7 linked regions of the Homo sapiens genome follow. The protein of the gene in region 1 purifies or fractionates together with the protein of each later gene. This does not show direct contact. Each region holds a gene or a part of one and is shown on either strand. Other genes may lie near its edges. The genes, in order: IGBP1, CAMK2G, TOM1L2, RPAP1, PFDN1, SH3BGRL and CKMT1B.

Region 1 (4,198 bases):
GTCAATAATAAGCATTGCTTGAGGAACTTCTATATGCCAAGCTCTATGGCAGGCATAACATAGTGAACAAGAAATGGCTTGTGCCCTCATAGAGTATATACTGTAGTAGGGGAGAGAGACAAAACTCAGAAAGACACATGAAATGACTGCACACAAGTGCCAAGAAGGAAACAAACATGAAGCAAAGAGAGAATAATAGTTGTTAACTACTTAAAGAGACTGATCTGGAAAGGCCTGAGGAGTGACATTTAAGCTGAGACCTAGAGGATGAAGAATTAGCCATATGACGAGCATTCCATGCAAAGAGAACTGCACACACAGACATTCTATAGAGGGACAGAGCTGGGTCTATTCAAAGAACTGAAAGACGGTCATTGTGGCTGAAGTCTAGTGAACGAGGGGAGAATGATACATGGTGAGACTGAAAAGAGGCAGGCAGCAGATCACACAAGGCCTTGGAGCTGATTTGTCTATCTCAGCTGAGAAATGCTGGTAGCCTAGACTGAGGTATGATAGTGGAGATGGAGAGAAATAGAAGGATAGAAGATACCTTTTGTAGCTGGAATGGAAAGGCCTTTGCTGATGGACTGGATGTGAAAATTCAGAAAAAGTGAGGAATTGAAGCTAAATCCTAGGTTTCTGGTTTAAAAACCTAAGTCAATGGTGGTACACTTACTGAGATGGGTGAGGAGGCACATTTGGGGGTTAAAAAGCCAAGGGTTCAAGGTATGACATGTCTGTGAAACACCCATGAAGGAAGGGTGTTGCAAGTATGGGTCTGAAGGTCAGGAGGGGTCTGGGCTAGTAATACGAATGTGGGAGACATTAGTATAAAGTTAAGTGTTGATATCTGTCAGGCATTTAAGAAAAACGTTCAAAGCGGCAGGCCAAAGAAATGCAAATCAAAACAATAGATACTTTCTGTTTGCCCAATTGGATTTTCTTTTTTCTTTTCTTTTCTTTTTTTTTTTTTTTTTGAGACGGAGTCTCGCTGTTGCCAGCCCAGGCTGGAGTGCAATGGTGCGATCTCGGCTCACTGCAACCTCCACCTCCTGGGTTCCAGCAATTCTCCTGCCTCAGCCTCCCAAGTACCTGAGATTACAGGCACCCGCCACCATGCCTGGCTAATTTTTGTATTTTTAGTAGAGATGGGGTTTCGCCATGTTGGCCAGGCTGGTCTCGAACTCCTGACCTCAGGTGATCCACCTGCCTCAGGCTCCCAAAGTGAGCCACCGCACCCGGCCACCCAATTGGATTTTCTAAGTATTAACACCCAAGACAAATGCAGTGGAACATATTCTGAAACTCTGTTATTGTAGAAAGCAACACTTTTACCACATATCAAGAGCCTCAAAATATTCAAACACTTTGACCCAGTCACCGGCTCTAGAAATCTACCCTAAGGAAACAGTGACAGATACATTTAAAGATGTTTGTTTATGGCATTACTCAGAATAGCAAAAAACCAGTGTCTAAATATTTGACAATAACAGATTAAATAATTATGGTACAACTAGAGCATGGAACATTCAATATCATGGTTTCAAAAGACACGAGGAAATGCTCATGGTATAATGTTAGGTTAAAAAAACAGGATAAAAAGCTATAGTTACAGCATTCCAAATTTATTAGCTTAAATAACTATGTAACTGAAAGGAAACACATCAGAAAGTTAACAATGATCATCTATGAGTGCTAGGATTGAGGCTTATTTTTTATTTAAAAAATATTCTTCTGTTTTGCAAACTTTCTACAATGAGCACTATGACTTTTACATTCAGAAAAATCTTTTTTTTTTTTTTTTTTTTGAGACAGGGTCTCGCTCTGTCACCTAGGCTGGAATACAATGGTGCGATCACAGCTCACTGCAGCCTCAACAAGTGATCCTCCCAGCTCAGCTCAGCCTCTGGAGTAGCTGGGACTACAGGCCTGTGCCACCATACCTGGCTAGTTTTTTATTTTTATTTTTTGGTACAGACAGAGTCTTACTTTGTTGCCTAGGCTGGTCTTGAACTCCTGGGCTCAAGTAATCCTCCCGCCTTGGCCTCCCAAAGAGTTGGGATTACAGGCATGAGCCACCGCACTCAGCCTAATTTCTATTTTTAACCATCCTTTAAGACTCATCTCAAATACCATTTATGTTCTTTTTTTTTGAGACACAGTCTCATTCCATTACTGAGGCTGGAGTGCAATGGCGCAGTCTCGGCTCACTGCAGCCTCCGACTCCCGGGCTCAGGCGATTCTGCTGCCTCAGCCTCCCGAGTACCTGGGATTACAGGAGTGCATCACCACCCCCGGATAATTTTTTTTTTTTTTTTTGCAGAGATGGCGTTTTGCCATGTTGACCAGGCTGGTCTTGAACTCCTGACCTCAAGGGATCCACCTGCCTCAGCCTCCCGAAGTGTTGGGATTACAGGCATAAGCCACCGCGCCTGGTGTCAAATGCCATTATGTTCTGAAACCTTTTCTTCATCCCTCCAACCAGATGTGACCACTCCCTCATCTTTCTCTTGCAGTTTTTTTTTTTTTTTTTTTTTGTATAATTATTTGGATACCAAACTCACTGTTTAAACTACCTATTATCTGCTGACAGGCCGCCCTCAACTTCTTACAAAGGACAGGATGTTAAATTCCATTTCGTATCAGTCTAGCCCATATCCTCAGTCACTCACTATCCCCTAACTTTATTATTCCTCATGGTCCTTACCAGCGGAAATTACATTATTTACTAGCTTACTGTTTGTCTCTACCACCAGAATAAAAGCTCCATAGCAGCACTGACTTCATCTGGTTCTCTAACACCTAGAACAGCCCCACAGGAAGCAATTAATAAATATTTCTGAATAAATGAATCATCTTCAGCTCTCTAGACCAAGCCTCTCCTCTGAGCTTCAGACTAACAGACACCTCTACTTATCTCCTAGGCACCTTAACCTCAACATGTTTCTATACTAAATTCATACTCTCCCCTTCCCCGATCTTCTCTTCTTCCTCTTTCCCCTTCTCAATAAATTTCACAGCCATCCACCTAAATCAGAAACATGGACATCTTTCCTTGCTGCTTCCTTCTATCTCACCTCCCACAACCAATTGATCACCAGGTTTCCTGTAGATTCAACCCTCCTAAATGTACTCCCCCATCCCTCTACCATTGCAATAGTAAACCCTAGTCACCTTTGTGACTTAACTGGGTCTAATCTTTTCCCTCACTGTTTCCTAACTGCTGGTACAGTGTACTAGCTAAAATGCAAATGTGATCATGCTACTATTTGAAAAGAAACAGCCAGGGCACAGCGGCTCACACCTGTAATCCCAGCACTTTGGGAGCCCGAGGTGGGTAGATCACCTGAGATCAGGAGTTCGAGACCAGCCTGGCCAGCACGGCAAAACCCCATCTCTACTAAAAATACAAAAACTAGCCGGGCGTGGTGGCAGGTGCCTGTAATCCCAGCTACTTGAGAGGCTGAGGCAGAATTGCTTGAACCCAGGAGGTGGAGGTTGCAGCGAGCCAAGATCACACCATTGCACTCCAGCCTGGGTGACAAGGGTGAAACTCTGTATAATAATAATAATAATAATAATAATAATAAAGAAAAAAGAAACAGAACTCTTCAGTGGATCTCAGTCACCAACCAGAGTAAGCTCTTTGGCGTGTCCTACCTAATAGCAGCTGACATTTACAGAATACTCACCACATGCCAGATATTGTGCTGTTTTATGTGATTTTTCCCATTTGTGCTTATTAACCCTGAGATAGGTACACATGCATCTCAACTTACAATAGGGCTGCATCTCAATAAATCCATCATAAATGGAAAATATGGTAAGTTGAAAACGCATTTAATACACCTTATTGAACATCATAGCTTAGCCTAGTTTACCTTCAACATGCTCAGAACACTTATATTAGCCTACAGTTGGGCAAAATCATCTAACACAAGGCCTATTTTATAATAAAGTGTTGAATAACTCATGTAATTTATTGATGTTCCCCTGACTGTGTATTGCTTCTGCACCAATATAAAGTTAAAAAATTCTAAGACAAGCCATCGCAAATCGGGGACCATCTGTACCATTATTACTTAGATTTCACATATGAGGAAAGCTGAGGCTCAGTTAGGTTAAATAACTTCCCCAAAGTCCAACAGATTATAAGTAAAGCTGGATCTCAAACCCAGGTCTCTGACTCTATGACCCA
Region 2 (4,253 bases), on another chromosome or scaffold:
GACTTCGGAGCAGGGGCGGGCTCAGGCCTGGGCTCATCCACTCAGCCCCGCGGAGGGGGAGCCGGGCCGGCCCACTCGGGGGAGGGGAGGAGTAAGAGGCGGAGCGGCCTAACCGGAGGCGGGACCAGGGGCGGGGCGAGGCCCTCAGCCGGCTCCCAGGGCACTCACCCTCCCTCCCCGCCCCGCGTCGCCTGCGCAGCACCGAGCGCTGTTTGGAGGCTGTTTATGAGAAGTTTTTTTTTTTTTTTTTTTTTTTTTTTTTTTTTTTTGAGACGGAGTCTCACTCTGTCGCCTGGGCTGGAGTGCAGTGGCGCGACCTCGGCTCACTGCAACCTCCCCCTCCCAGGTTCAAGCGATTCTCCTGCCTCAGCCTTCCGAGCAGCTGGGATTACAGGCGCCCGCCACTATGCCCAGCTAAATTTTTTGTATTTTTTAGTAGAGACGGGGTTTCACCATATTAGCCAGGCTGGTCTCGAACTCCTGACCTCGTGATTCGCCCGCGTCGGCCTCCCAAAGTACTGGGATTACAGGCATGAGGAAGTTTTATTCTCAAAAGTACCCAAAGGGAGTAGGAGGAGGTACTCTCTCCAACCTGGTAAGCCAGGCTGCTAAAATCTACGCCTCTGGCCGTAAACCTCCAACAGCAGTAACACAATGGACTGTTTAAAGGTTATTTTATTAAATATTTTCAGTTCAAGGTTTCATTGTAACAAAGCTATGAAGGGTCTACCAACATTCAGAACAAACACTATTTTTAAATTATTTCTATGTTGTCATGCAAAAATTCTGCATCAAATGCCTTCCGTTTCTTGTTTAAAAGGTGATTTTTTAATAGTCTATTGTCTATAGATGCTGACATTAGCCCCAGAAGAGGAGTAAGAATGCTAAGAAGTGGGGCTGGAGCAGCCATATGAAGCTATGGGTCTCAATGAATTCTAAGACCATTTGTCTTCAAGCCAGCAAAACGAAACCCTGTGGTGAAGGGATTTGCGTGCTGGCACTGCAGACTGCAGGGCAGGAAAGGGCTAGGGCCCAGGGGCTGGGACATGCATGAGGTGCTCGGAGGAGCCTGGCTAAATCCAAGCACCAGCACCTGTGAGTCTGCTCTCTTCTCAGCTGGCTCCCAAGTAAACCTGTAGCTTTGCCTCTTCTCCCAGCTCTCGTGCCTCCTGAAGGTAGTCCAGGGAACTGGAATCTACCCACCTTTCCCCCAAAAGTGGAGATGTTTGTGCAGATAAATCTGCAGCGTTGTTTTGAGGGAAACCAAGGCCATGACCAATTGCTCCTCCATTATCTTCTTTGCTATCTGCTTAGGGTATAGATCTCTTCCTCCTGGAATGGAACTCCTTGAGCACAGAGAGGGACAATGAAGGTAGAAGCCTTGGCTCTGGACACCTCTTTTGGGTTACATGCGGGGAGGGGTGATGCCCATGCAGATTGTCCAGCAGTAAGTCTATACTTCAGTTGGTCAGTAAAGAGGCCTCTGTAAGGACACCTCTTCTTCTTGCCAGAGCAGTCAGGTCAATCTCAAAGACAGGAAAAGAGATGGACGTGCAGCAAGGAAGAATAAGAAGGGAGGCAGCCCCAAAGGCAGCCTGAATGCATAGAAACGACCACCACCTCTTCTCCCACTGCCTCACTCCTCCCATCCCACAGGGGCACTTGGCAGAGGGCCCAGGCCCAGATGAGGGTCAGCATGGGGACCACTACCGTGAAAAGGCAAGACAAAGATGGTCCAGATCAGCACAGAAACAGAACCGCCAAAGGCGGCACGGGAGCCCTGACCAGGGCCTGGCTCTCTCCTTGCCAGGTTAGAAGAAAACACGAAGCAAAGCAGCAACAACCCCTCCCCCTCCTAGCTGCAGGGATAAGGCCTCAATATTAGGGCCCACATGCATTGTGCATCCTATAGAAATGGATGAGTGAGTGCATGTCAGACTAACACGAGGTTTCTCATCGGCTTCATGGCGGGTACACTTCTGCAGCACCAATTCTCTTCCCTTCTACACTAAACAAGACAGTACAGCAACGTCCGGGCTCTCAGTCCTGAGGCCACCACTTCTCAGCTGCCTCCACAGCAGGCTGGGAGCTCTGCGTTCTCTCCCAAGTAGGTCTGATGGTCACGATGTTCTCATCAGCCCCATTCTAGGCGCCTATGCAAGTTCCAAAGAAGTTCATTCCTAGACCTGGGGTAAGCAGGCCACCTCAGGAGCTGCAATCACATCACGGCCCCCAAAGCTCTGTCAGAGTTCTTGCCTGGTCCCCCTAAGTCCATGGGGACCAGAGAGGCCAAGCTCACCTCTTCAAGGCCGGTGGGTGAGCCACTGCTCATGCCAGGATGGACCTCATACATACTCCTGCCTTCTTGCCAACCCAAGGGCTGTCGGTGGTTTTAAAACGCATCATGGTATGGATTCCTTTTTTTTTTAAACAATCTTTTTTTCTTTTTTTTTTTTCTTAAATGTAAAAAACACCTCGGTACAGCAGAGACAGACACGAAGGGCGGGCGGGAGGGCTGCATGCAGGGGCGTGCATTGGCTGCTGCCGCTTTTGTAATTGAATTGTTTTAAACCTCAAACAAACAGGACTGCCGCTGTCACTCAGGCCCTCCAGAGCCACTGGCTGCGAAGGTTGGACCTCCGGCTGGAATCTCCTAAAGCCCCTGTCAAACAGGACAGAATGTGGTAACAGAACAGAGGACAATGAGCACACAGATGAGTTCCAGCGACTTTAGCACGCTAAACACATGGCCAAGTCGGCCTGAGAAGGTGGGGAAAGTGGGTGAAGCTAATGCTTAAATACAAAACTGCCTCCCATTTGCTAAGCACTAACTAAGTGCTTTACTTATAGTATCTTACTTAATCCTCACAATGATTAAATGAGGTAGGCACCACTCTCTGCCTTTCTTTGACAGCTAAGGAAACAGTTTAGGGAGGGGAAGTAACCTGTCTGAGGTCATCCAATTTGGAGTCACGGAGCCAGACCCTAGTCTGTCTGATTTCCAAGCATAACTTATTGCAACCATTCTGCCAGGCTTTGCCAGTCCTCTGGGACGGCCCACACCTCCTCTCCCAGGACCACCTCCCAGCCTTCTCTTCTTCCTCTGACCCCACCTATCCCAGGCCCTTCCAGCCCCTCTCCCCCGTCAACCAGGTGCACCTGTGGCTGAGCTCACTGCAGCGGTGCGGCAGGGGCCCCTGAGCAGTGATAGTGGACATTGAGCCACTTGCCATCCCGACGGTGCCAGACCCGGGTCTCTTCTGACTGGCTGGTGCGAGGCCGACCCTGCCCGTCGATGTACTGGGTGAGGCGGATGTAGGCGATGCACGCTGCGTCCTCCCCAATCACGTGGACGTGTGGGTTTAGGATGGTGGTATGGATAGGCTTGCTGTTCTTGGACAGGACTGCAGGGCAGGGTGGGGTAGGTAAGAGGACATCAGGCCTGGGCACCTGCATTTTCCTCCCAGCCTGCACTTCCAAGTCTTACCATCTCCCAAGCAACCACTCCCAGAATCTCCAAGTACCGCCCCCCCCCACCCCCGAACCCCTGAACGCCCTCCAGAGGCCAGGATGCCACATTACATTAGTCTCCTTTATCCAAAAGGAACAGAAAGATGGGTAACAGTGACAGTACCTGCTGCGCTTTTAATCAGGCATTGTGCTGGGGTTTTACATGCCCGAGCTGTATTTCTTGGTGGATAATATTTTCTTCATTATAAGATGAGGAAATAGGCTCAAGGAATAATTTGCTCAAATCACACACCTGAACTCAGGACCATGTGACTCTTAACTAAAGCCTATAGATTTTCTATTCTGTTAGGCTGAGTTTAGATTTCATAAGGCTTGGCTCACCCCTAGCTAGGGCTGCAGAACAAAATCATGAACTTAAACCATTCAAAATTGATTTGTAATTTTTTTTAAGGCACCAAAGCTGAAATAGAATCATCAAAGCACCAAGCTCAGGATATTCCCAGGATTCTCTGGGGAAAAGGCAAAAGAAGTTGGATTGCCATTATCAGCATATGCTGTGAAAACTGTGTTGCTTTTATTGAGATTCACATTTTAGTTCAATTCAAATGTTAGACAGGGGCTACATGACACCTTCCTAGTACTAATATAAACTCTGGAATTGCTTCTGGCTAATAGAATTACTTAGATAACAGAGAGTTTATATATGTAGCTGAGATGTGATAAGGGTGGGAGCCAGCGGAGAAGTTAGTGACTAACTATAACTCAGGGCAGGATAGGGAAGG
Region 3 (4,198 bases), on another chromosome or scaffold:
TTTTTTGAGACAGAGTCTCGCTCTGTCACCCAGGCTGGAGTGTAGTAGAGCGATGTCGGCTCACTGCAAGCTCCGCCTCCCGGGTTCACGCCATTCTCCTGCCTCAGTCTCCCAAGTAGCTGGGACTACAGCCGCCCACCACCACGCCTGGCTAATTTTTTGTATTTTTAGTAGAGACAGGGTTTCACCGTGCTAGCCAGGATGGTCTCGATCTCCTGACCTTGTGATCCACCCGCCTCGGCCTCCCAAAGTGCTGGGATTACAGGCGTTAGCCACCGCACCCGGCTTTTTTTTTTTTTTCTTTTTTGAGATGGCATCTTGCTCTGTTGCTCAGGCTGCAGTGCAGTGGCACAATCTCGGCTCACTGCAACCTCCGCCTCCCGGGTTCAAGCGATCCTCCTGCCTCAACCCCCCTAGTAGTTGGGATTACAGGCACACACCACCATGCCCAGCTGATTTTTGTATTTTTAGTAGAGATGGGGTTTTGCCATGTTGGTTAGGCTGGTCTTGAACTCCTGACTTCAGGTGATCCACCTGCCGCAGCCTCCCAAAGTCTTGGGATTACCGGTGTTACACTTTGAATTTTAAGTATTAAATCTGGCAGTCATATATGCTGGACTGACTGAAGGCAGAGACATCTGTTCTGATACAGAAATAGTGGCTACAAATATACGAAATATTGAGAAGCTACAATTACAGCAACTGATAGCCACTAGAAGTTTAACTCAAGTCAAATGAAAGGAAAGTAGACGAGAAATATTTTTTAAAAAGGAAAACAGAAAAGCAAGACAGAGGAAAGAATTTTGAGGGCCATGCTTATTATTTCAATGTTATAATTTCATTTGTTATAAATTGGTATCATCCAGTATAACCAATGTGCTAGAGTCATATACACACTTTGAATGTACAAACTAAATGAACTGTGGAAAGTGGTGAGTTTCTTTTAAGTTCCAGACAATGGACTGCTTTAGGCTGATGGTAAAGTTCAAGGAGAGCAAATATTTCAGTGCTGCTACCTCCTGTTTCCAAGCCCTCTGTAGATATTGACAATCAATCAATCACAGACTTTTCTAAGCCCTGATGTGGCTTCAGCATCCTCCTCAAACCTGTGTTCCAAGAAGCCAAAGAGCTGAAACCTATCTGCCCTCCTTGACCTAGTTAATATTTATTTATTTTTTTGAGATGGAGTCGTCCCCCAGGCTGGAGTGCAATGGCGCGATCTCGGCTCACTGCAACCTCTGCTTCCCGGGTTCAAGCAATTCTCCTGCTTCAGCCTCCTGAGTAGCTGGGACTACAGGTGCCCGCCACCAAGTCTGGCTAATTTTTTTGTATTTTTAGTACAGACGGGGTTTCACCATTTTGGCCAGGCTGGTCTCAAACTCCTGACCTCAAGTGATCCACCCACCTCAGCCTCCCAAAATGCTGGGATTACGCGCCCGGCCTTGACCTAGTTAATATTGAAAAGGAAATTACTTCAATCATAGGGAATGTTCCATATAAAACATGGCAGGTGACCTTTCTTTTTTTTTTTTTTTTTTTTGAGACAGTGTCTTGCTCTGTCGCCCAGGCTGGAGTGCAATGATGCGATATCGGCTCACTGCAACCTCCACCTCCCAGGCTCAAGTGATTCTCCTGCCGCAGCCTCCCGAGTAGTTGGGATTGCAGGTGCCCACCATGCGCAGCTAATTTTTGTATTTTTAGTAGAGACTGGGTTTCGCCATGTTGGTCAGGCTGGTCTCAAACTCCTGACCTCAGGTGATCCACCCACCTCGGCCTCCCATAGTGCTGGGATTACGGGCGTGAGCCACTGCGCACGGCCGTGACCTTTCTTTAATTCATTGGAATTTCCCCCATCCCTGCTTTCCAACATAGATTTTAAACTTCAAATTTAGGGGGAAAAAAGGTATGAATTGAAAGTAAGGTGGTACAACTGGCTAGGACTCAGGAATACACTTTCACATGTATTTCCCAAAAGACTCTCTTTGGGTCTTCCAAGAAAGAAAGAGAGGTGGCCTGCAAGGGAGGCCAGTGGTAGGAAGTAGGTAGGCCCTTTTGTCCCTGTGAGACACTCACCTAAGCCTGCAAGCTGGGAGGAGAGGGAAGATGGGGGCGCTGTGTTCCCCACCATTGGGCTCACCACGGCTGGAGACCCTGGCCCCAGGTCTATTAAGTTGTCTTCGGTTACTTCATTCAGTACCTGTCAGAACATGAGATTGGCCATAAGCCCCAGAACCCTGGAGTCAGGCTCTGAGGTAGAAGCTGGCAAGGCAACTATGCAGGGTTCCAAGAAGAAAAGTATCAGCGCTGCTCTAGTACAGAAGCAAGGCCACTTCCCCCACCTGCCTTCCAGGTCCATGGTGGGCCTGGATGTCAGTGAGCCCTGCTCACTGCCTCCTCCCCGTCCCCACTAGAAGGAGGGGTTGCTGAGTCAACAGTGACTGTCCTGGGAGATGCAAACTTAGGGCTTGCTTGCCACCTTCCCATCAGGGGTGCCTGCTAGCTCTGCCCTAGTATCCCATCAACCAGAGCTTGCCTCTTCAATTTCCCAAATATTTCAAAACCAGTTAGAAAAACTGGAGGTCTCTCCAGCCTCCAAAACGTGGAGGGGTAGGTCTGGCCTCAGGAGATGACAGGATTCTGAAGGAATACTTACTCCATTACTGGCATTTTGAACGGATCGGCCAGACCTGTATCGTTCGAACCTAACAGGGGAAGGGAAAGCAGAAGTAAGGAGAGAGGATGCCTGTGATATGGCCCTGTGGGGTGCTCACTAGTCCTATGAAGAATCCCTGGGACCAAGACCAGCCAGTCCCACCTGGGGGCTAGGGAGTGAAACCATATATCAACTCTGCCACGGCTTCCTCTGTGTGGGGCTCCCCCTGAGAGGATCAGCTTCTCACCCAGCACCCAGAGTGGGCATCAGAAAGGGGTGGTGGCTGGCCCATCATGGAGGTCATTGTGAGTGTCCCCAGCCTCTCCTCACACACCTGGGCCCTGGAGGGAGGGTGGCTTAACCACCTTACCTTGGAGCTGCAGACTCCCTATTTCATAGGGCTGTGTTCAGGAGCAACTAGCTAGTGTTCCTAACATGCTCCCAACTCAGCCTCTGGGGAAAGGGGGTGGGGCACACATAGGGTGGGCACCAGCAGGAGGAAGGCGGACGCATGGCCCTGGCTACGGCCTGGGGAAATGCTCGCCAGTAGCTGCTACAGAGAGGCCTGGGCCAGTCATCGAAGGACTGCTAGGAGGGTGGAGTGAGTGTCCTCTGCACCCAGTCAGGCAGTGCAGGGGGAGTTGGCTTTGAGCAACTGTCGAAGGCCAGGTCATCCTCCTGTCAGGTGGGGAACGGAAGAGTAGTTATGAGGTGTGTGTTGGGGTGGGGCAGAATAGATTATGTTCTGTATCGTATTTAAAAACTCCAAATGCCATGGGCAGCGGTAGCTAAGAGACTTTTTCCAGCTGGAGCCTTAGACACCCAGCTTTAGTGAGTTATGCTGCTCCAGATTTGTCTCCCAACTTGCTGGGGTCAGCAGCTGGTGACAAGAAAGAGATCCCCAGGAGGAATGATCTGGGTAAGGCAGTGAGTGTCCACTGTGGTTTTAAAAACGACTTGTGTGTTTTTTCAACAGTGGTCTACAAGGAGAACAGGAATATTAATACATCTGAAACAATTTTAATCCTGGGGTACCTTTCCCACACTCATCTTCAATGAACAATGAGTATCATCAAAGACACTCTAACCAGGATAGCACTTCCAGCCACCAGCCCCAGGCTTTGCCTCTGAATTATGTGTAATGCTTGGACTGGGAGACTCTTGGGTGAAAATACTCATATTAGTTAGCTCCTGTTATGCTTTCTAGCAGGGCTTAAATAGGTTTAATAGGTTAAACCCAAGCCCATTTACCATGGAGAAACTGGAATCACATGGCAAGACAAAGGGGCCTCGGGCTGGGAGTCAGGTCCCCTTATATCTGCTCCTGTTCTCCAACTGATGCACTGGGGGGTCCTGGGGATGCCCCCACACTTACTGCAGAGGTTTATTCACCTGTCAGGTGGGCACAGAGCCACTGGTGTGTACTTCCGTAGTCAAAAGATGAGACAAGGCCCAAGGCTGTGACAGCCATAACAAAATCACCCTTTAGGTCCCCAAAGGGTAACGCAAATGCAAGCATCTGTCCCACTCACCCTAACTGATGCC
Region 4 (4,198 bases), on another chromosome or scaffold:
AGTGTAAAGGGGCGTGAGGCAGCCAGATCCTCACTGTGGCACCCTTTGGCACTTTTGTAGTGATTCTGCTGAGGCCAGCCTCTCGGCCACCCCTTCCTTAGTCACTTGGACACAGGTGTCTGGGCTCCAGCCTCTTGTTGAGCCGTGTCTAAGGCAGACCTTGAAGTTGCTGTCCAGACCTGAGATGTGGAGAGCCGTGGGCCCAGTGCCCGTTGCCTGCCTGTTGTTCCTGGGAGCCTACTACCAGGCCTGGAGCCAGCAAGTGAGTGCCTCCTGCCGGCTGTCCACCAGGCCCCCGCACCCTGCCTTCAGCTACATTCCACCCGTTGCTCCCTCTCTGTGTCCATCTCTCCACTCCTACTTCCCCATTTACTATCTTCCCTTTTAATTCCTACCCTTCCTCCTCTTTCTACCTCCATATCCCCGTGGAGCTTCCCAGGAGCCATGTTGGTGGGGACCAGAGAGCCCACGCAGCAGCTCAGCCTTCCTGTAGCCTGTGTGCTCCCTCTTTATGCCCCCTACACATCGGGGCCTTCTCTCCCTTCAGAAGGCTCAGCCTGCAGAAGCCTCCAAATGTGCTCTTTTGGGCTGTTGGGATGGTGGCATTGGCCTGGGTACACAGGGTCTAGGAGAATGAATGGCTGGGCCATCAGCTCAGTGAATTCCTTGGTCCACCAGCCAAGCTCATGCCCGGAGGATTGGCTCCAGGACATGCAGCGCCTGTCAGAGGAGCTGCTGCTGCCACTGCTGAGTCAGCCCACACTGGGCAGCCTGTGGGATTCCCTTAGGTATGTACTGTGTTTGGTAGCTGGGGGAAGCAGGGGAGGAGGCAATTTCTTTCCTTGTGGGATTCCTGGGTCCAGCTCCCAGGTCCATCCCAGGGTGCAGGCCCTCGGCCCGAGGGAAACCCGAGTCCCTAGCAGGCAGCAGTGGGGTGGGCTCTGAGGAGTGTGAGCAGCACTGACCTCCACAGCCAGGCCCCCCGTTAGTCTTAGGTACAGACCCAGAAGCTCTTTCCAGCTTGGCACACGCCAGGCCAGAGTCCCCCTCAGACTCTCCACTTCACCTACAGGCACTGCTCCCTTCTCTGCAACCCGCTGTCCTGTGTGCCAGCCCTTGAAGCTCCCCCCAGCCTCGTGTCACTGGGCTGCTCGGGAGGCTGCCCCCGTCTCAGTCTGGCTGGCTCAGCCTCACCCTTCCCATTCCTCACTGCCCTCCTCTCTCTTCTTAATACCCTGGCCCAGATCCACAAGGGGCTGTGTGGCCAGGTAAGTGTGGGGTGCCTGATTAGGGGCCAGGCAAGGGGCCAAGATGGCAGGAATCAGAAAGAAAGTGGGAGGGTGGGATGGGCGCGGTGGCTCACGCCTGTAATCCCAGCAGTTTGGGAGGCCGAGGTGGGCAGATCACCTGAGGTCGGGAGTTCGAGACCAGCCTGGCCAACATGGAGAAACCCCATCTCTACTAAAAATACAAAATTAGCCAGGCATGATGGCACATGCCTGTAATCCCAGCTACTCGGGAGGCTGAGGCAGGAGAATCACTTGAACCCGGGAGGCGGAGGCTGCGGTGAGCTGAGATCACACCATTGCACTGCAGCCTGGGCAACAAGAGCGAAACTCCATCTCAAAAAAAACCAAAAAGAAAGTGGGAGGGTGTCCCATGGGGAAGGGAGGCCTTCTGCTGGCACTCATTTCCCTGAGTCTGGAGAGGGGCAGCCACCTGGGGAGCCCTAGAAGGCATGAGAGTCAATTTCTAGATCTGAACAAAATTGCTTTTCCTCAGCTGGCTGCCATATTGGCTGCCCCGGGACTCCAGAATTACTTCCTCCAGTGTGTGGCTCCTGGGGCTGCCCCACACCTCACACCTTTCTCTGCATGGGCCCTGCGCCATGAGTACCACCTGCAGTACCTGGCACTCGCTCTGGCCCAGAAAGCGGTAGGTCCCCCTGTCTGACAGGTTCTCCTGTCATCCCATTATCTCCTTCCTGTTTCTGTGGAACCCAGCCTGCTTCTGCCAGGCCATGCAGCTCCCACTTTCCTCCAGACATGCCCTGGACCTCTGCCCTTCAGCCTCACTTTTATCCTCTTCCTCACTTCTCTCTGCCACGTCCCCTTCTCCTGTACTAGGTAGTTCCCTGCTTTTCTGTCTGCAGGCAGCGCTGCAGCCACTGCCAGCCACCCATGCTGCCCTCTATCATGGTATGGCCTTGGCCCTGCTGAGCCGGCTGCTGCCCGGAAGTGAGTACCTCACCCATGAGCTGCTGCTGAGCTGTGTATTCCGGCTGGAGTTCCTCCCGTAAGTGCTTGGTTGGTGGCATCAACTCAGCCCTTTTGGACGCTGCTGCAGTTGTTAACAGAGCAGCCCTGAATTTGGAGCCAGGAGACCTAAATTCTCTTTCTTCCACCGACGACACTTAACTCTTCCGAGCTTCCATTACCTCATTAGTGAAGTGAGGATCAGGCTAACCACACCCAAGAATGATTGTGAGACTTCAGTGTGACTGCATGGCTAAAAAAATGGTATCTAAATCAGTTACACACATGTAATAGCCATCCGCTACTGAGTGTTTACTCTGTGTTTGATACTCCCTTATGTATTTATCTACATTTTAAGTATTTTACTTGGACCATGAGATAGATACTATTATTATCCTTATTTTACTCTGAGGAAACTGAGGCCCAGAGAAGTTATGTAAACTCATGCCTAGGCAGCTGGCTGTAGTGTGCATCCTCTTAACTGCTACACAGCACTGCGCGGGAAGTAGTTAAGGGAGCAGAGAGGCACAGGTCTGGACCTAGGAGCCTCCAGGAAGTTCCAAAGAGCTGGCACAGCCTCCAAGTGCTGTGGTTCCAGCCCTCATTTTTGGCTTTTGGGTCCCATTACAGGGAAAGAACATCAGGGGGTCCAGAGGCAGCCGACTTCTCTGACCAGCTGTCGTTAGGAAGCAGCAGGGTCCCTCGGTGTGGGCAAGGGACTCTGCTGGCTCAGGCCTGCCAGGACCTCCCCAGCATCCGCAACTGCTACCTGACTCATTGCTCGCCAGCCCGAGCCAGTCTGCTGGCCTCCCAGGCTCTGCACCGAGGGGAGCTACAGCGAGTCCCAACCCTGCTACTGCCCATGCCTACGGAGCCGCTGCTGCCCACCGACTGGCCCTTCCTGCCACTGATTCGCCTCTACCACCGGGCTTCAGACACCCCCTCGGGACTCTCTCCCACAGACACCATGGGCACAGCCATGCGGGTCCTGCAGTGGGTGCTAGTTTTGGAGAGCTGGCGCCCCCAGGCTCTCTGGGCTGTGCCCCCTGCTGCCCGCCTGGCACGGCTCATGTGTGTGTTCCTGGTGGACAGTGAGCTGTTCCGGGAGTCCCCAGTACAGCATCTGGTGGCAGCCCTCCTCGCCCAGCTCTGTCAGCCTCAAGTCTTGCCAAACCTCAACCTGGACTGCCGACTCCCTGGCCTGACGTCTTTCCCTGACCTCTATGCCAACTTCCTGGATCATTTTGAGGCTGTCTCTTTTGGGGACCACCTCTTTGGGGCCCTGGTCCTCCTGCCCCTGCAGCGTCGGTTCAGTGTCACCTTGCGCCTTGCCCTCTTTGGGGAACACGTGGGAGCCTTGCGAGCTCTGAGCCTGCCTCTGACCCAGGTACTTTCTCAGCCCAGCAGGACCTGCAAGGGTACCCTGCACTGGGCCTCGGGGGCAGTCCTGAGCCTTGAGGAGCTTTGGAAGACCTCAGCTTCCTCATCTTACCTCTTGGGGGCTTTGAGGGGATTAAGAGAATCAATGAAAAGGGCTTAACATGGGCTGGGTGTGGTGGCTCACGCCTGTAATTCCATCACTCTGGGAAGCTGAGGTGGGTGGATCACTTAAGGTCAGGAGTTTGAGACCAGCCTGGGCAACATAGTGAAACCCCATTTCTACTAAAAATACAAAACTTAGCTGGGCGTGGTTGCGGGTGCCTGTAGTCCCAGCTACTCAGGAGGCTGAGGCAGGAGAATCGCTTGAACCCGGGAAGCGGAGGCTACAGTGAGCCGAGATCGCGCCACTGCACCCCAGCCCAGTGACAGAGCAAGACCCTGTCTCAAAAAAGAAAAAAGGAAAGGGTTTAACCTGGTGTCTGGCATATAGTGGGTATTCATTACTATTAATAAGGCATAGCTCCTTGCTTATCAGTGCTACAATCTAGATAAGAAGAGATTTA
Region 5 (4,198 bases), on another chromosome or scaffold:
CACTTGCCCCCCCAACACTGTATTCTCTAAATATCACTGCCCACTAAACTGACAGATTAAGGAGAAATTGATAAACACTGTCATAGAGGAAGATTCATCACATCTCTCAGTAACTAAATGAATAAGCAGATGATAATTCAGTAAGATACACACAAAATTTGAACATCACAATTAACAGTGTATATGTGCATAAGTGCACATGTGGGGGTGTGCTGAAGTAATAAAACCATAAAGTTGTAGCAGTGGAAAAGTATAGGATTGTTTCAGAGAAGAGAGGGGAGTATACACTGGGTGATACTGTTAAAAGCACAGATTAGGGAAGTACTGGAGAACATATTAAATGCTGAAATAAGGCTCATGGTAAGGAGCCCATGATGATGGGAATCAAAAAAAGAAATTGTATATAAACTGGAGTTATATTACTAAAGTAGCAAGATAAACTGTCAAATGATGGAAAACAGTATATATAGCATAATTCCTATTTTAAAAAAAGGTTGTGTATATATATGCATGTATGAATGTCTTGATATAAATATAGAAGTTTGGAATGATACAGAAACCGTAGAGGTGACATTTGGATGTACCGAGGGTGGAAAAACAAAGTAATATTTTCATTGTTTAATCATTTGTTTTATATTTTATTTATGGTGTACTTCTATTGCTTTTATAATGTAAGTAACATGTAAAATGAAAAATTAAAAAAGAAAAAAGAACTTCCTAAAAGATAAAACATTCTACCAGTATTTGAGACACTCAACAAAAGGAAACTTGCAGAAAGTAAATTTCTTAATATTCACCAGAACTCAGCAGTACGGTATTGATAAAATCATCACCTGTGGCAATTTCACCTTGATAATTGGGGTTTTTGTGTTTTTTTTTTTCCCTAAAGAGACAAGGTCTTGTTATGTTGCGCAGGCTGGAATGCCTCAGGCAATCCTCCCGCTTCAGCCTCCCGTAGCTGGGACTACAAGCATTTGCCACTGTGCCCACTCTGCTAATTTTTTAATCATGAAAGTTAACAACAAAAAAAGTTAATGTATACTTGTTATAATTTATTATTACAGAGATTGTAAGAAAAAAATCAAGGCCAGGCGCAGTGGCCTATGATTCCCAGCACTTGGGAGGCCGAGGCAGGCAGATCATCTGAGGTCGGGAGTTCGAGACCAGCCTGACCAACAAGGAGAAATCCCATCTCTACTAAAAACACAAAATTAGCAGGGCGTGGTGGCGCATGCCTGTAATCCCAGCTACTTGGGAAGCTGAGACAGGAGAATCGCTTGAAGCCAGGAGGCGGAGGTAGCAGTGAGCCGAGATCACACCATTGCACTTCAGCCTGGGCAACAAGAGCGAAACTCCGTCTCAAAAAAAAAAAAAAAAAACAAAAAAAGAAAAGAAAAGAAAAGAAAGAAAGAAAAAGAAAAAATCATTTATCCCTACGTCCCATCTAATTTCTTTAGGGTAAACAGTATTAACAATTTAATATATATCCTTACATATCATCTTCAATATTCATACACAAATGTTTGTTTTTTGTTTTCATAAAGAGAATTATATACATATTACCTTGCTACTTATTATTCATTAGGATAATTTTAAATATATTTACCTACAGTTGCAAAAATGCATTTTGTTTTATCTACATGAAATGATTCTGTTTGGGTTTTTAAAGATACTTTTGTTTCTTATGAGTGAAAACACAGATATCAAACTGAACCTCTTAGAACAGTTGAGCTGATTAAAATGTTAAAATAGGACACAACAACAATCTGGTTATCACAGGCTGTTTTTTCTTTACTTGGTTTTTTTGCTTTTTTGTCTTGTTTTTACAATACACTTTTCTAAGCTGCAAATCTATTATCAAGTTTGTTTCAACTATCAGTAGTTAAAAATAAGCCTAAGTAACCTAAGATACTGCATACTCCCAGGCCAGGCCAATTCAGTGCCCCTAAGAAATCCTCAGGAGGCTACAAGTTGTAGCTCCCAAATTCAGCAGAGGGCTGAGTTAGATTCTGATCCTCTGCCTCAAATAGTACTTACAGAAATTAGATGAAATGACCTATGAAGTCAATGTATCCACCCACATGTTGGGAAATCTTGGTCCCTAAGAAATAACCAGCTTTTTGTCCAGTCTAACTTTTACTATACACAGGATGGGCCTTTCACCAAAGCCCAAGAAGAATATCTCACTAAAGGTCTTAATGTATAAATAAATTATAATAATAAAAATAATAAAGTAATATTTCCAAAGATTTGCTTACTGTTACCTATCATCTTTTTCCCTAGCTAAAAAGAAAAAATTGTTCTCATTGGAGCACCATCCTTCAGATAGTTAATTGGTTATAGCTTGCTACTTTGTCCTTATATAGAACCTAATTTAGGTTAAAGAAATTACAATGTGTAAAAAAGACCCTATACCAAGATCCTCTAAAATTTATCATTATTACCCACTCTCCTGCCCATCCACCACAATCCACTACACAAGTGTTGTTTAAATATACATTACATTTTGTTTATGGTTTTGTTTTTTTTAAAGAATAAACACATTCAAGGGCAATGAACAAAATACATTCAGGTTAAAACCATCTCATCAAAATTCTCTGCAGTTCCAAAGAAGAGACTATTCTTTTTTTTTTGTTTTGGTCTTATATGCGCTATGAATATGAATATGACAGCTTCACGGCTCCAACGTAATTATAGAAAATAAAAATAATATGACATTACTTTGGCAGGCAGGCATACATTTTCATTTAATATGACACAATAAGATTACTACTTTCTCCCAAAAGTTAACTCCTATTGCCAATAAAAACTTACTTCTAGTTCTTTAATTTTTTCTTCTGCTATTTTCTGCTTCTCTAACAGCTGACTGTGAATTGCTTCCTTGGACTGAAGAATAAACCTATGAAACACAAGAAAGTTGAAAATTAAGCCACATGACTATTGAATTCATCGAAATCAATAGCTACATACTACAAATATTAAACTGAGCAAATTAAAAGGACAAATGCATATTAACATAATACGTCAAGCTCAGGAAACCACCAGAAGTTTAAACCTTCTTGGCTGAGAAGGAATAAAGGCTTAAAAGTAGATTCTGCTTTCTTATTTAATATAGGAATCAGGCAGGGAACAGTGGTGTGGGCCTACAGTCCCAGATACTCAGGAGGCTGAGGTGGGAGGATTGTTTGAGCCCAGGTGTCTGAGTCTAGTCTGGGCAACATAGCAAGACCCTGTCTCATTAAAAAAAAAAGCGGGGGGGTTGCGGGAGTTGGGCACAGTGGCTCACACCTGTAATCCCAGCACTCTGAGAGGCCGAGGCAGGAGGACTGCTTGAGCCTGGGAGTTCAAGACTAGCCCAGGCAACATGATGAGACCCATCTCTACAAAAAATAAATTTAAAATATTAGTCAGGCACAGTGGCACACGCCTGTAGTCCCAGCTACTAGGGAGGCTGAGGTGGGAGGATCAATTGAGACTGAGATATCAAAGCTGTAGTGAGCCATGATTGTGCTACTGCACTCCAGCTTGGGTAACAGAGCAAGATCCTGTCTTAAAAACATTAAAAAAAAAAAAAAAAAGAAAAGAAAATCAGGCTTCAAGTAGATTCATATGTAAAAGAAAAAATAATAAAGGAATAAAAATATATCATACGCTAAGAGAAAAGTCAACATACAAACAAATACCCTATAAGTTTTGTTTTTTCAGTTATCTGTTTCAATTTTTATCTAGATATTTTTTAAACTATATTTGTAAAGTGGAGCGCCCCTCCATTTTTTTTTTTTTTTTGTAACAGCAGTAACTCATGACCTTTTAAAGTCACAATCAAGCACTGTGTTAGGATCAATGCATTAGTGTTTATATGAGTTCCTCAAACAAAAAGCACTGTATAAGCCTTAGTATCTTTTATTATTATTTCCAGAGTGTATATAGTACCTCTGAAAAGCTCAAAATGTACAAGTGGAAATTTTCAACTTTTTCCATTTTACATCAGGCACATTATTTACCACTGATGAGGGTGGAAATATGGAGAAGTTTTAAAAATTAACACTGAAACTGTTTTATGACTTTATGTTCACAATTCTTGCTTCAGGGAAAGGAAGAACAAACTTTTATAGCCCCAAGTAAGTGAACTGAAATATTTCCCCTCCACTGGAACCAAGGGAAGACCCCAGTTATGCAAATCTCTTTCAGGACTGTC
Region 6 (4,880 bases), about 11 Mb from region 1:
GAACTATTCAAAATAACTATGATATGTGGCTAAGTGTCCATCAACGGTGAATGAATAAAGGAAATGTGATATATATATATATATATATATATATACACACACACACACACACATATATATACACACACTTATATATACACACATATATATACACACACAAAATAAAATATTATTCAGCCATAAAAATGATATTCTGTTATTTGTGACAACATGGATGAGCCTGGAGGACATTATTTTAAGTGAACTAAGACATAACACAGAAAGACAAAAGACATACCACACGTTCTCACCCATGTGGGAGCTAAAAAAGTCGATCCCATGAAGATATTGGGTAGAATGGATGGTGGTTACCAGAGGCTGAGAAGGGTAGGGGGAAAGAAGGATTAAGAGAGGTTGGTTAATGAGTACACAAATACAGTTAGATAGAAGGAATAAGATCCACTGTTCAATTGCACAATAGGGTGGCTATAGTTACCAATATAATTTACTGTATAGCTAGAAAAAACAGCTAGAATGTTTGGAATGTTCCCACCACAAATAAATGATAAATGTTTGCGGTAACGGATATCCTAATTACCCTAATTTGATCATCACACATTGTGTGCATGTATCAAAAGATCATATGTCCCCCATAAATATGCACAATTATGATATATCAATAAAAATAAAAAATGAAATCCATTGCAAAGACCAACATACTTGTTTTCATTTCTAAACTTTCAAGAAGCAAGTGCTACTCTTCACTATTAGGCCACTTTTTTTGTTTTGTTTTGTTTTTGAGAGAAAGTCTCGCTCTGTTGCCCAGGCTGGATTGCAGTGGTGCGATCTCTGCTCACCGCAAGCTCCGCCTCTTGGGTTCACGCCATTCTCCTGCCTCAGCCTCCCGAGTGGCTGGGACTGCAGGCGCCCGCCACCATAATAAGTTAACATTGTCTTGCCAATTATCACAGATCCAGATCCCCCACTCTGCCCAGTATAACCAGTATAACATCTGTTGTTTTTTTTTTTAATGACAACCAGTAGGAAGATTAAGAAACAGTCAGCTACCACCAATCCAAAGCAAAGAAGCTTTTAACTGTTCTTCAGACAACTAAACTTAGTCACTTATTGAAGTATCTCACTATGTGCAATTGTAGGACTCCATCAGGATATTTGCTCAAAACTTTCTAACTTATGTATTAAAACAAACAGGGCATCAATCTTAAAGGAAAACTTTAGTACAGCAAACTGAAAAGTGCCTTTCTGAAGTAAATAATCACCACTCCATTCATGTTACAAAGAAGTACTCACTTTACACTGTTTTGGTATTATTTAAAAGTGTTGTAATAGTATAATAAAGCAAGGATTTATTTTGGCATTATGAAGTAGAATTTTGATAACAGGTTCATTGAACTATAATTACTACAGTAGATAAATTTCTAATAAATTTCTAACTACTCATGACAAAAAATTGAAATAAAATACAAATACCATAAACATCTGCCATTTGCATGGTCTTCAACAATAAAGTCCAACAAAGATGGGAAGAATAGACACTGAAGACTACAGAGGAGGGAGGGAGGAAGGCAAAGGTTGTAAAATTACCTATTGGGTACTACGCCCACTACCAGGGTGAGAGGTTCAATGGTACCCCAAACCTTGCACAGTATACCCATGCATCAAATCTGCACATGTACCCTCTGAATCTAAAATAAAAGTTGAAATCTAAATAAAAAAAAAAAGGAGTCCAATAAAGGAAATAATAGAAGACAGCAGCCATTTCTAAGGCTCTTGGAAACTTAAGACTTAACAAAGAGAGGTGCAGTTATTCTTACTTGAATAGAAATTCTGAAAGCAGTTTCTTGTTGAATCTACTTTTAAAGAAGGGGTAGAGGAAGGAGAAAGCAAAGAATAAATAACAGTATTGAAACTGTATGACTCCCAAAGCAAAACTAACTGCCTGATCTGTTCAGTCTCATTAGGGGTTTAACTAAAGGCATTAAGTTGGACTTTACAATTATTGGATTGAGTTGAGACTCTGAGCAACTCAAATTTTACTTTGAAATATTAGACAACATGTATGGAAAATAATAAAGCAAGAGGCTCATAAAATTAGGTCCAAAGGAAATATAAAAGGTGTTCTTTTTTTTAACCTAAACTTATTCAAAAAATGTAAGATTAAATTTTCTGATATTCCAAAATTGCATAAACATATCCACACATGGTGGCCAGAGAAGACAAAGTTCAAATATCAAGGTTCTTGTGATTTAACATAACCTCCACTTCCATTCCACATCCTCTCAGGTGTAAATAAACAAGCCAAAAAATAAAAACACACAACAACCTGGATTAGCTGCTGCTCTAAAGCTCAAGAAGAGGGAAGGGGTTCCTATACCCTACAATCTGAACCCACACATCTGTTCTTGCCACTGTCTGCCTTTCTCTTGAGTTGTAAAAAGCAGAAGCACTTTCATTTATCATGGATATACACTCATCTTGCACCCCAGTTTATCATATTCTCCCGACAGCTGCTGAAAATTTGTTATTCTAAATTAAGAGTAAGTGAATCCATGAAAGAGAAAGTCCTATCATTTGAAGCAGCAGCAACTCAGGCTGCCACTACACAAGAAGCCACTGAGCTCCCTATCCAGTTCTCAATATACTTGAAGCAGTGAGAGAAATTTAAAAGTAAAATATTTTGAAAGAATAGAAACAGTCAAAATAAGGGACAATATGGGGGGAAAACTGAATCTCGTGTCATATTAAGTTAAAAAAAAATTTACGTCATTGTTACCAACTTCCCCTCCCAATTTGTCTAGTTCTAACAGGCCTTCAAGCTCAAGTTAACCACTTTCTTCTACACACTCTCAAAATAACTCTATTACCAGGGTCTCACTCACCCAGAATAATTACAATGCCTCGGTAGGCCTCCACTCAATCCCCACCAGTTACAGCATGTGTACCCCCATCCTTTACAGAAGTGCACTCCTCCTTGTCTCAGTACTTAGGGCGTATTCATCAAATGTCTCACTCTTGAAACTCACCAGTGTGCGATTTTACTTGACTTCACGTAACCCTAAAGACCGTATAGCACCATCTCCCATCTCCCAAAACTTGGTAGCTTTCGTTTTCCTTCAAAGCAGAAATGTGCCCCCCAACGTCACGAAGCAAACAAAGCTGAACTCTATGTGGAAAAAAAAAAAAATGAAATCGATGCAACAAAGGGAAAAAAGGGAAGAAGAAGGGTGGGATCGGGGATGCATGAGTCTTCCAAAGGAGAAGCTGCCAGAGGAACTTCTGCATTTTAATGGTTCTGGGGCAGCAGAGGACTGGTGTGTAGGAAAACAACAAAGGTGGACTCCCCACTCTCCTTACCGCTGTAGAGCCAGAGGAAGATGCAATATATACACGGATCACCATCCTGGGAACAGCGGCTGCGGTTGTTTGGGTCCTGAAAAGGGCTGTGGAGCAGCTGCAGCAATGGCTGGAATCCAGCTAGGGGCTGAAACAGCGGTTGGCAGAGAAGGGTGGGGGAAGGTGGAAGGAGAACTCGCCAGAGCCCCGCCTCCGCCTTTAGCAGCTTCCACCGAGCTCTCTAAGCGCTGCAGTTCCAGCCCAAAACCCCGGAAGGAACAGGCTGTTTGCATCAATTCTATTTTTTTTTAATAGGGAATCTCGAATAGCACCGCGAGATCTGTTGAAACATTGATTTTTGACGATTCCTTCCCTGAGAAGAGGGCGAGGAGAAGAAGAAAGAAAAAGGAGAACTGAATTGAATTAGATTAGCATGAAGGACCTTTTCACGCGGAGACTAAAAGTACTGCGCATAACTTCCTGCTCAGAAATATATGCAAATAAGAAGACAGATCCTGAAAGAGCAAGCTGTATGTTGAAAACCCATGTTCTCAAAGCCTTGCGCATTTTAAGATTCCTATTACGTAGTGATTTTTCTGATCTTAGCTCGTTGTAGGAATTAGGCACTAAAGTACTGAGCAATGCTGCAGAGTTTTGAAGGAAAGTTTCAGGTTTCCTTAAGCCCAGAAATGGCAGGATTGGTTTTCTTTTTGAATTTTGTGTTTTGTTAAATTAGGGAACCCTGCTTCCGTGGGAATTTGCAGGAGGCCTGATTGGCAAGTTTAAGAATGAAGGAATAAATTACAAAGAAAAGATTGAAAATATTGTGTAAAAAGATGGATGATTTTTGTTTTGTTTTGCTTTTTAACTGACTGAAGTAAGGGATTTGGGAGAACATATTGCAGATGTTGAAATGGTGAAGAGAGAGATCAGATGGTTATTTGTAGCTCTAAGGAAATGAGCAAACAGTTAATAATGTCCAGAGACAGACCATATACTTCAAAGTGTAGTTTTAGGTTCCCAGATTATGTTAAATGAACAGAAAAAAAGGAATTTGCAAGATGAATGAGAGTGGAGAGGAGTCAGTCGCTTGTCCTACTTCTTTTCCTTTGCTGTTTTTCCACTGTCTCCAGTCTAGTGGTTTACTGTCTTTGCCTAGGCTCAGTGCTTACAATAGCTTTGTTAACTGTTCCCTACCCACAGGTTTTCCCTTCTCCAATCTGTCTTAAATACTAATTCCAAATTAATCTCTTTACATGTTGTCCTTAAAACAACCTCAAGAGGTGGGTACTATTACATTAATTTTACAGATGAAGAAACTGAAACTCAGAAAAATAGTTTTCCTAAAATCATATGGTTAGTACATTCCAGAGTTAGGAACTCCAGAGGCCACCTTCTTATTTTTTTTTAATTATACTTTAAATTCTAGGGTACATGTGCACAACGTGCAGGTTTGTTACATAGGTATACATGTGCCATGTTGGTTTGCTGCACCCATCAACTCGTTGTTTACATTAGGTATTTCACCTAATGCTATCACTCCTCCA
Region 7 (3,578 bases), on another chromosome or scaffold:
CCCTAATTTGGTGCTGTCTGGCTCTTAGAGTGCACCCAGGGAGATCCCTGGAGTGAAGGAGTCTACAGGCAGAGCGCTAATTTCCAAGTATCAATGCTCCTGGAGAGCTGAGTTGTGATATTACTCCCATTCCCTGTCTATTATAGGTCGAAGTACAGCCTGGGGCCTCCAGGACTGGTCACGACCTTCCTGGTCCCTGGTATTGACTATCAGCTTCCTTGGCCACCTGCTATGAGCCTGTCTCTACAGTAGAAGGAGATTGTGGGGAGAGAAATCTTAAGTCATAATGAATAAAGTGCAAACAGAAGTGCATCCTGATTATTTTCAGAAGCTGATGAGGAATATGGGTAAAATGTTAATGCTTTCCACCCACCTGAGAATCAGTGTTCCTGGGTTGCCATATCTGGAGTCTCTTTCCATCATAAATAATCCCACTGCCTCTTTTCATTTCCTGAAGGCTGCTCCCTCCTCACCCCACCATTAGAAGTAACACAGACAGCTGCAGCATAGCAAGGAGTCTTTACTAGGATGGAGGCAGGGGATGCGGGGGCAGGTCCAGAGCAAGTAGAATGGGCCATCATTAGAATGAGCAGAACTCCTGGGAATCTTGAGTCATCAGCTGGCGATGGGGAGTTAATGCTTGGTGTGGATGACAGGTGTGGGGATGCGGATATCCTGGCCTCTCTCCAGACGCCGTTCACAATCAATCAAATAGTTTACTCCATCGATGACCAGTTGCACCAGCTCCACCTAAGGGACACTAATCTTTGATCTGCTTCCTACAGTCTGAGTTTTTCTTTATCACTGACTGACTTGCCTGCTCATTTCCAATTGCCTCCCCACTCAACCTGAATTTCATTTCAGATTATCTTACATCCCGGAGGCTCACTCACTGCCATATTTCGGCCCTCGCAGACCTATACCTCTCCTTGTCCTAATCCCTTAGGATCTCACCTCTGATTTGCCTAGTCGGTCCAAATTAGAAATATCAAAGACACCGCCTGTAGCAGCAGTGTCCACTCCTCCAGTACCACGTTTTTGGAGTCTTAGGTTCTCCAGGATCTTTGGGAAGCGGCTATCCTAGAGAGGAGATAGGGATTGGGAGCAGGGTCAATAGAGGCAGAGACTAGTCCTACCTGAAAGAGCCCTGAACCTGCTCAGAGCTCTGTCTCCTGAACTTTTTTTTTCCTTTTTTCTTTTTTCTTTTTTAATTTTTTTTAGACAGGGTCTCTCTCTGTCACCCAGGCTGGAGTGATCACAGCTCACTGAAGCCTCGACTTCCCAGGCTTAAGTGATCCTCTCACCTCAGCCTCCACTACACCCAGCTAACTTTTGTATTTGTAGTAGAGATGGGGTTTCACCAGGTTGCCCAGGCTGGTCTTGAACTCCTGGGCTCAAGTAATCTGCCTGCCTTGGCCTCCCAAGTGTTGGGATTAGAGGCATGAGCCACTGTGCCTGGCCTGTCCTCTGACCCTTTAGCCACAACATGTTTGGCTCCTTTCCAAAGGGTCCACTCCCTCCCCATCCACAACCCACCCTTCCTTACTCACACCCCTCTGTAACCCCACAACTCCTTTACTTTGCTTAGCAGGGGCAGTTTGATGTGCACTCCTGCCCGAAGTCCAGTGCCCAGGTTAGATGGACAGGTCAAGATGTATCCCAAACGCTCATTCCACATGAACTCCCAGCCACGTTCTTGGATAAGTCTCTCCACCTGAGTCCACAAAGGTTTTGTTAACGAAAAATCAGGGATATTTCATTAACCCTGGACCCTCCCTTAGCTAGACCCACAAGAACACTAGAAATATGTCTAGAACAGAAACTTGGCTGTGAATGAATGACATTGGTCTTTTTTTAAATGAAAAAGGTTTGTTATTGTTTTCATGCATGCATGATGCAAAATTATGATGTGCATAATAATGAGATTGTGAAAAAATATCTTATGTGGAAGAAGAAAACTCGAAGGAGTGGTGTATTAAGGATGATCTAGGGAAATGAACAGAGGTGGTAAACTGAACTGAGAGATGACTGATTATTCAATGAGGTCTGCATGCATCGATTATCTTTGCTTTGCTAATGAGCCTAGAGCTTAGAAGGGTCCCTTCAGACAGAAGATGAAGGTGTAAGCTTTGCCAGGAAGAGGTAAGATAACATTCTGTTAGCTGTGAACGGAGCACCTGTGTGAATGCAGAGAAAGATGAAAACAGAGCAGAAAAGCCAGATTCATAGGAATAGGGGGCGGGGGGAAGGCGTTTGGCTTCACTTAACCATGTAGTCATGAAGATGACTATTAGAGTTCAAGAGACAAGGGATCTAGCAGAATGATGGTCACAAAGACCACAACCCAACATGAGTAAAGGGATCCTCTTTATAGTTCAGAAGGAACCATGCCATAGGGGATATCTTACATGCTGAACATGGGGGGAAACTCTTCCATCCAGAATAATATTGCAGCTAACACTTTAACACTTATTAAGCACTTACTGTGGACCAAGTACTTTACCTGTATTTCACTTAATCCCCACAACAACCTAAAATGTAGAAAATCTCATTATCCCAATTTTACAGATGAGGAAACTGAGGCATATAATTTAAAGGTACTTCCCTACCCACTCATAGTCAGAATATGTTATCTATTACTTGCCAAAAATAGTAGAAACTTCTCAGAATCTAAAAGAGGAGCTCTTTTTCTTTGCAAACCTAAAATAGAACTGTATGTTTGAGAACATACAGTAAGAATTGAATTGAGTTTATGGGGATTTCTAATGTAGACTTGAATACGGAGACCCAATCCATGTAGGATTGATGATTCAGTTCAACCTCTCATCTAGAGCCACATATTCTAGAACTTGAACCATTCTATCCTCCACCTTCCCCAGTCTCTCTCCGAACTCTCAACTTAAAGCCTAGACCCGATACTTTAACAAGAATGATAGAATCCAGAGTCAAGGCCTACCTTGTCTCAGAACTGGGTGGTTATATTAGAGTCATGAACACAGCAACCTCTCCCCGCCAACATCAATCTAAGCTCGAATGTTTTCCTTATCTGCACACCTCACCATCCCACTGCACACATCCCAGGCACTGACGTGCCATCTCATTTATTCCTTCTTTGCACTCTCTGTCAACAGCCTTGTTCACTTCCTAAGATTCCTGACACTCTTTCTTTTCCTAATCTTAGTGTGACCACATGTCCTGGTTTTCCCAGTATGGTCCCAGCTGGTTTACACCTTTAGTCCTGGAGTGAGTCCTAGATAGTCCTTTTTACTATAAGACATGTCCTGGGTTGGTTGGTAAATTACATAATCTATTTATGCTACTCTTTGGTTTTCCTTATGTCCTCCCACCTAGCTCCCCTACATAGTCTTCTCTAACCTCTTTGAGGCCTCGGCAGAATCTTTCAAACACTCTCTTCATGTTACCACCCTTCTCCATGGAGATCACCCGTGTATGATCCTCCTCATTCACCCAGATCAGGAAGCTCTTCTCATTGTTGTGCCTGAGGGCCGGAGAGGGACAGTGATCAAGAGGCAAGGCAAGAATTGGGAGAGATAGAGGGAAAAAAAGCATTTATGAGG

What was found.
Region 2: the proteins of IGBP1 (region 1) and CAMK2G purify together in Homo sapiens (affinity purification with mass spectrometry; one large-scale study listed by BioGRID and IntAct). This does not show direct contact.
Region 3: the proteins of IGBP1 (region 1) and TOM1L2 fractionate together in Homo sapiens (co-fractionation; one large-scale study listed by BioGRID). This does not show direct contact.
Region 4: the proteins of IGBP1 (region 1) and RPAP1 fractionate together in Homo sapiens (co-fractionation; one large-scale study listed by BioGRID). This does not show direct contact.
Region 5: the proteins of IGBP1 (region 1) and PFDN1 fractionate together in Homo sapiens (co-fractionation; one large-scale study listed by BioGRID). This does not show direct contact.
Region 6: the proteins of IGBP1 (region 1) and SH3BGRL fractionate together in Homo sapiens (co-fractionation; one large-scale study listed by BioGRID). This does not show direct contact.
Region 7: the proteins of IGBP1 (region 1) and CKMT1B fractionate together in Homo sapiens (co-fractionation; one large-scale study listed by BioGRID). This does not show direct contact.

What each region holds. Positions count from the first base shown.
Region 1 is NC_000023.11:70,136,091-70,140,288, reverse strand, and holds part of IGBP1 (immunoglobulin-binding protein 1), read right to left. Parts: intron 1-4,198. UniProt on the Homo sapiens protein: Associated to surface IgM-receptor; may be involved in signal transduction.
Region 2 is NC_000010.11:73,811,844-73,816,096, forward strand, and holds the end of CAMK2G (calcium/calmodulin-dependent protein kinase type II subunit gamma), read right to left. Parts: exon of another isoform or gene 4,024-4,253; intron 3,405-4,023; coding exon 3,172-3,404; 3' UTR 3,160-3,171; intron 2,663-3,159; coding exon of another isoform or gene 2,601-2,662; 3' UTR 658-2,600; downstream 1-657.
Region 3 is NC_000017.11:17,864,223-17,868,420, forward strand, and holds part of TOM1L2 (TOM1-like protein 2), read right to left. Parts: intron 2,703-4,198; coding exon 2,654-2,702; intron 2,198-2,653; coding exon 2,074-2,197; intron 1-2,073. UniProt on the Homo sapiens protein: Acts as a MYO6/Myosin VI adapter protein that targets myosin VI to endocytic structures. May also play a role in recruiting clathrin to endosomes. May regulate growth factor-induced mitogenic signaling.
Region 4 is NC_000015.10:41,519,835-41,524,032, reverse strand, and holds part of RPAP1 (RNA polymerase II-associated protein 1), read left to right. Parts: intron 1-60; coding exon 61-262; intron 263-678; coding exon 679-788; intron 789-1,072; coding exon 1,073-1,268; intron 1,269-1,782; coding exon 1,783-1,935; intron 1,936-2,152; coding exon 2,153-2,295; intron 2,296-2,885; coding exon 2,886-3,642; intron 3,643-4,198. UniProt on the Homo sapiens protein: Forms an interface between the RNA polymerase II enzyme and chaperone/scaffolding protein, suggesting that it is required to connect RNA polymerase II to regulators of protein complex formation.
Region 5 is NC_000005.10:140,278,635-140,282,832, forward strand, and holds part of PFDN1 (prefoldin subunit 1), read right to left. Parts: intron 2,900-4,198; coding exon 2,815-2,899; intron 1-2,814. UniProt on the Homo sapiens protein: Binds specifically to cytosolic chaperonin (c-CPN) and transfers target proteins to it. Binds to nascent polypeptide chain and promotes folding in an environment in which there are many competing pathways for nonnative proteins.
Region 6 is NC_000023.11:81,200,720-81,205,599, reverse strand, and holds the start of SH3BGRL (adapter SH3BGRL), read right to left. Parts: upstream 3,499-4,880; 5' UTR 3,400-3,498; coding exon 3,355-3,399; intron 3,164-3,354; exon of another isoform or gene 3,024-3,163; intron 3,009-3,023; exon of another isoform or gene 2,880-3,008; intron 1-2,879. UniProt on the Homo sapiens protein: Appears to function as an adapter protein that bridges proteins together or proteins with mRNAs. May function as a ubiquitin ligase-substrate adapter.
Region 7 is NC_000015.10:43,596,329-43,599,906, reverse strand, and holds the end of CKMT1B (creatine kinase U-type, mitochondrial precursor), read right to left. Parts: intron 3,500-3,578; coding exon 3,376-3,499; intron 2,532-3,375; exon of another isoform or gene 1,715-2,531; coding exon 1,580-1,714; intron 1,081-1,579; coding exon 955-1,080; intron 751-954; coding exon 634-750; 3' UTR 501-633; downstream 1-500. Other genes in the region: STRC (stereocilin precursor), read left to right, coding at 147-235. UniProt on the Homo sapiens protein: Reversibly catalyzes the transfer of phosphate between ATP and various phosphogens (e.g. creatine phosphate).